2 separate regions of the Homo sapiens genome follow, and region 2 is linked to region 1. Evidence: fine-mapped expression QTL. Tissue or cell type: whole blood. Region 1 holds a variant in brackets; the other region holds the start of a gene. All regions are shown on one strand. Distances are from middle to middle.

Evidence for each region. PIP is the estimated chance that this variant, and not a neighbour inherited with it, causes the effect.
Region 2: SEPTIN10 starts here. The variant in region 1 is fine-mapped to the expression of SEPTIN10 in whole blood (TOPMed, PIP above 0.99).

What each region holds. Positions count from the first base shown.
Region 1 is chr2:109,550,071-109,552,828 of GRCh38, reverse strand. The region is part of intron 9 of SEPTIN10 (septin 10); the gene reads left to right. It also overlaps a transcript of RANBP2 not described here and the pseudogene RPL37P12. Among named protein-coding and RNA genes, the nearest start is that of SEPTIN10, 63 kb to the left of the region's middle. The variant G/A (reference allele first, on the strand shown) is at 1,165.
Region 2 is chr2:109,612,522-109,615,279 of GRCh38, reverse strand. SEPTIN10 (septin 10) reads left to right here and starts at 1,314. Exons shown (of 11, transcript NM_144710.5): 1 at 1,314-1,482. The coding sequence starts at 1,453. It overlaps SOWAHC (sosondowah ankyrin repeat domain family member C), which reads right to left and starts at 916. Exons shown (of 1, transcript NM_023016.4): 1 at 1-916. The coding sequence starts at 790. It also overlaps a transcript of RANBP2 not described here. RefSeq lists silencers at 863-1,032, 1,293-1,542, 1,573-1,662 and an enhancer at 1,515-2,424.

The DNA of each region.
Region 1 (2,758 bases):
TGCAGCAGCTACCCTCTTGGGTGCACACATTTTTCTTTCATGAAATCCATGCCTTGAATCCACGGTATACAATTTTTAGGTGCCTCATTCAACCAGTCTCAGTGGTGGTTTGTCTTTGTTAGTGCCAAGGCTAAAAGAAGAAACACGACTGGATGTTTTCTTATGCCTAGCAGGGTAAGCCACATTTGCCACAGCCCAACTCCTGAAGGTGGTGGGCCTCACAGCCACAGTGGCAACACAGTGTATGCGTCTTACTGTGATGCTTCCCAAACTATGACCTTCCCTTTGTCATCTCACTCCTTTGACTGAGACCAAAGAGAATTTTGGCCTTTTGAGCAAATATTCTTCCATTAGAAATGGTTTACCAAGGGCTTGTAATGGACTAGGTTACTAAGAAGTATCTTAACCATGAGCTATAAACATTTTTACTATGGCTTAATAAAGCCTTTTTTGAGTGTTGCTGGGGTGGTTGTTTGCCCTGAAATGGATATCTGTGAAGGCTGTGAAGTAGCTTTACTTTCCATTTGAACTCAGTCTCTCAGGATGTAGTTAGGTGGTCTAGATCAGTGGTCCCCAACCTTTTTGGCACCAGGGACCCGTTTCCTGGAAGACAGTTTTTCCACGGACCAGGGGAGATGGTTTCAGGATGAAACTGTTCCAGCTCAGATCATCAGGCATTAGATTCTCACAAGGAGCGCACAACCAAGATCCCTCACATGCACAGTTTGCAATAGGGTTTGTGCTCCTGTGGGAATCTAATGCCACCACTGATCTGACAGTAGGCGGAGCTCAGGCAGTAATGCTTGTTTGCCCGCCACTCACCTTATACTGTGTAGCCCAGTTCCTAACAGGCCATGGACCAGTACTGGTCCGCGGCCTGGGGATTGGGGACCCCTGGTCTAGATGACCTTGGGGTAGCCCTGGCACCAAAAAAATCACTGAACTTCTGTAGTTTTGTTTGCTTCTAGTTCTGAAGCAGCAATTTAGGTTTTGAGTAAAGCTATTTTCTTGAAAATACATGATTTCTTGAAGAGTTAATCTGTAATCCAATTGTGCTAGTTTATTATTTCAAATACACTTACAGTACTTGCTATGTAAATGAACTGTGCAGGAAATGGTTTTGTAAAAGTAATAGTTTACTAATTTATTTATAATGCGAATTTT[G/A]ATGTTTTATTTGGAAAAAGTTCAAACAACAGAAAAGTGAAAGTATAGGATACCTATGTCCTTCCCCTTACCTAAGAAAACAGGAATACCATAATCTCACCCAATCTTCAGTCCTTATTCAGATTTCCCCAGTTGCCCCAAGATTGGCTTTCAAAATCGTTCCTTTTTATTTGGTGATTTTTCTGTTTTTGTTTTTGAACCAGGATGCAATCACAGATTGCATATTGTACATGGGTATTATGTTTGTTTAGTTTCTTTTATTCAAGAGTTTCTCATATAGCATGAATCTTAGTTTTACCAATTCACTAATAAAAAGATACCACTCAAAACATTATTTAATTCTATATTAAAGGACTGTTATTTAAATATGTCCTTGCCAATATTGTTGTGAAACAAATATCCCTTAATTTATCTTTTGTATAAATCCATATTTCTATATGTAGCTTTGTAAAATGATGTGTGCTTAGATAATAGTGTGTGAACATTAGATGACTAGAATGGGGAGATGCACAGAACAAATGATGTCTCCAAATATCGTTGACGTTCTGTCTTCCCTATTCCTTTATTGACAAGATTCTAGAAGAACTCATGAGGCATGTTGCATATGACAGACGGATTTCCTATATACCCTCCCCACTTTAAGAAAAAGTACAGTTTATATTTATCCCTCAGGTTACATGACCATCATTATTATTACTACCCAATTTGATATGTCTGTCTATATCTTGGAATAATTTTTTCATTTAACATTTATGCCCCTTGTATTTCCAAAAAGTATGCTCGGTAATTTACAATTTAAAAATGCAGCTACGTTACAACCATGAACATGAGGAGAACAGGAGCCTTATAATACAGGGTACGAAGAAGGGGTTTGCACAGAGGGCAGCCGAGAGCCCTGGTTGAGGGAATTTTTAAGTGAACACAAAGACTGGGCTCTAACTTCTAGGCAGGCAGGGCAGAAGGGACCACACAGAGTTTAGATGGAAGTCATCTGCTAGCTCAGCAGAGAGAAATATTTTCCCTGGCATTTATTTCTAATTTCTAAAAATGGGGCCGGGCGTGGTGGCTCACGCCTGCAATCCTAGCACTTCGGGAGGCCGAGGTGGGTGGATCACTTGAGATCAGGAGTTTGAGACCAGCCTGGTCAATATGGTGAAACCCCATCTCTACTAAAAATACAAAAATTAGCCAGGCATGGTGGCAACATGCCTATAATTCCAGCTACTCAGGAGGTTGAGGCAGGAGAATCGCCTGAACACAAGAGGCAGAGGTTGCAGTGAGCCAAGATTATGCCACTGCACTCCAGCCTGGGCAACAGAGCGAGAATCCGTCTCAAAAAACAAAAAAAAAAAAGATACTTTTTTTTTGTTTTTTGAGACTGAGTCTTGCTTTTGTTGCCCAGGCTGGAGTACAATGGTGCAATCTCAGCTTACCGCAACCTTGGCCTCCCAGGTTCAAGCAATTGTCCTGCCTCAGCCTCCCGAGTAGCTGGGATTATAGGCATGTGCCACCATGCCCAGCTAATTTTGTATTTTTAGTAGAGATGGGGTTTCTCCATGTTGGTCAGGCTGGTCTCGAACTCCTGACCTCACGT
Region 2 (2,758 bases), 62 kb before region 1:
GCGTCACGGAGCCTCCGCCGCTGCTCTCCTCCTCCGCGGACGACGAGGCCACCGATGCGCTGTCTGAGTCGCCCCCGCCTCTGCCGCGTCCTCCCCCGGAGGAGCTGCCCGGGCTGCTGCCCCCGGGACACACGCTCCTCTTCAGCTGCGGGGAGCTGCCCATCACCAGGTCACGGAGGTTCTGGCGGGCCGGCCTCTGTGCGGTAGCCCCCACAAGGGAGCTGCCCCTGTCCGCCTCCTCGCAGCCATGTGGCGGGAGCTCCAGGTCCTCGCTGGGCCCCGGGGCTGGAGTCCGCGGTAGGGGCTGCACGTCGCGCCGCGAGTTCTTCCTGCGAGCCCCGGCGCTCAGGGGCGGCCAGTGCGCGGGGGCGGGGGGCTCTCCCTCGCCCAGCTCGCGGCCCTGTCCAGGGAGCGACTCCGGGGCCGCCGCGTCGGGGAGCCGATCGCGCGCCTCGGGCCCGGCAGGGCCGTCGGGGGCCTCGGGCTCGGCGGTCACCTGGATTCGCGGCGGGTCCCCGGAGGGCTCGGACGGCCCTTCACAGAACCTCTTCTTGAGGTGCACGTACTTGGCGCCGTCGGCGGGATCGACGCGCACAGTGGCCACGGCGTTCACCAGCTCCTTGAAGTGCGCGCGGGCGCGGGCGCGCTGCTCCGGTTCGCCGCCTAGGGCGCCCCTGAAGTGCTGCACCAGCTCGGCGTGCAGGGCCCGGCCCCCGCGCTCCGCCAGGAAGCGCAGCACCGCCTCGGGGCCCAGCGCCGCCTCGGGGCCCCACTCTGCCGGCCCCTCCATCCTCGACCGCGCTGCTCCCCCGCCAGCGGGCGGCTCAGCGCGGTCCCATAGCGACGGGCTCCCAGCGGCCGGCTCCCGACGGCGGCGGAGTCTGGCGGGCTCAGCGGGCTGCCAGCCTACGCGTCTGAGGCCAGAGGACTCGGCCACCGCCTCACTGGGCCGCGCCCGGGCGGACACGCCCCCCGCACCCCCGCCCCGCGCCCACGCCACCAGGCCACGCCCACTTCCGCTCCCCGCTGTCTCGGCCACACCTACCTAGGGCGGCCTCGCCTCAAGGCCCGCCCACTTCCGGCCTCGCGAGGGCCGCAATCACTGCTCCGCAGTTCCCGCCTGCATTCCTCGCGCCGTCTTCCTGGAGTCCCAGCTCTCCTTCAGCCCGCCCCAACGCTGACGCTCAGTCCTCAGGCGTCGAGGGTAGCTCCTGTGAGGGGCTCGCTTGGCGCAGGCAAAACGCTCAGCGCGCACCACAGGGCGTCCGCCCCAACCCCGCCCCCGGAGGCCTCCAGCTCGGCCCCGCCCCTGTCCCTTCCCCGTCGCGGAGGCAGCCTAGCCTCGCGCCCCGCCCGTTGCTTCTGCCCTCCGGCCTTCCCGCCGCCGTCGCCGGGACCAGCCGCTCGGGGCCGGGCTGATACAGCCGCTTCACCGTGCCCCTGCCCGCGACCATGGCCTCCTCCGAGGTGGCGCGGCACCTGGTGAGTCCCGCCGACGCCGGGGCCCCAGCCCCGCGCTCCCCGGCCCCCGCGGGACTTCCCGCCCTCGACCCACCGGCCCCCTGGTCCGGCCCGGGATTGTGACCCGCGCCCCCTCCGGCCCCGCCCGCCCAGTGCTCCCCGGCTTCCGCGGCGGCCGGGCGCCTGGGGCGGGAGAGGAGCCTCTGCGGAGCCTGGGCGCGGCCGGACCCCGGTTCGCGGGGCGCGGCGCCAGCGTCGGGACGGTGGGAGAGTTCTTGAACGACTTCCCGGTCTTTGCCAAAAGTTACATCCACAGCGGTGTTTGTGGGTCTCTTACGGCTATAACGGAGTTGAAGGCGCAGTGCGGACTGATTGAATAGCGGTCATCTTTTGCAGCCGTGAGCACTTCCGAGCCTCCCTGCCGCCGGGAGAAAGCCCGGCTCCCCTGGCTTTTCAAAAGCTCTCCCGTTTTATCCGATGGTGTGGTCGTCCAAGTTTTCCTCCATTGGGATTTTAAACCGTTTTTTTCCCGCCTTGACTCTTTTGTACTCTAAAAGAACGCGTTTGTTCACTGTTTTGAACCTTTCCAGTTACTTTTGTAGATTTATCTCGCTTGTTAGTAAGCCAGCGGTTTTCCAAGTGTGGTTACAACTATTTTCGTTAATAGTACCAAGGTCGTGTACATCGAGTTTTCCAAAGGCTACATGGTATGGAGTGATCTCACCGCCGTTTGGAGGCCCGATGCCTGTGTATTCTTAAAAACAAATTCTCCCTTTTAATTTTTGATAGTAAACATTGGTGGTTTTCATCTGTGTAAACAAAAGCTCTTTGGAGGCTGGAGACCAAAAAGTTTGAGAACCACTCTACTAAGCAACCTCCTACATGAGAAGTTTAAATTGTAGAAACAGTTCAGATTGCAGGCTGAGAGATTAGAGGATCCGTCCAAAGTGACACCGTTGGTTTGTTTTATAGAACCTGGACAAAGATTTTTCTCCCTGATTCAGCCCAGGTCTCTTTTCATTCTATCGCGTATTTTTTAAAAATCTCAAATTTTCTGTCTGGACCCCCTTGTCTCAGTTGCTGTGTTTGTGTGCATGTGTGAGTGAGGGAAAATTGAGGGGTCCTGGTGAGGAAAATGTGTTTTATAAATTCTTTGATTCATAGATTACGTATCCAAACAAGCTTGAGCAGAAGAGAACACTTCATTTAGCTGATGTTAGATTTATTTTTAATTGTACTTAATTTGCTTTGAGGCTAACTTTACTTATTTTCGAATTAAACTGTATTTTGCGTTAAT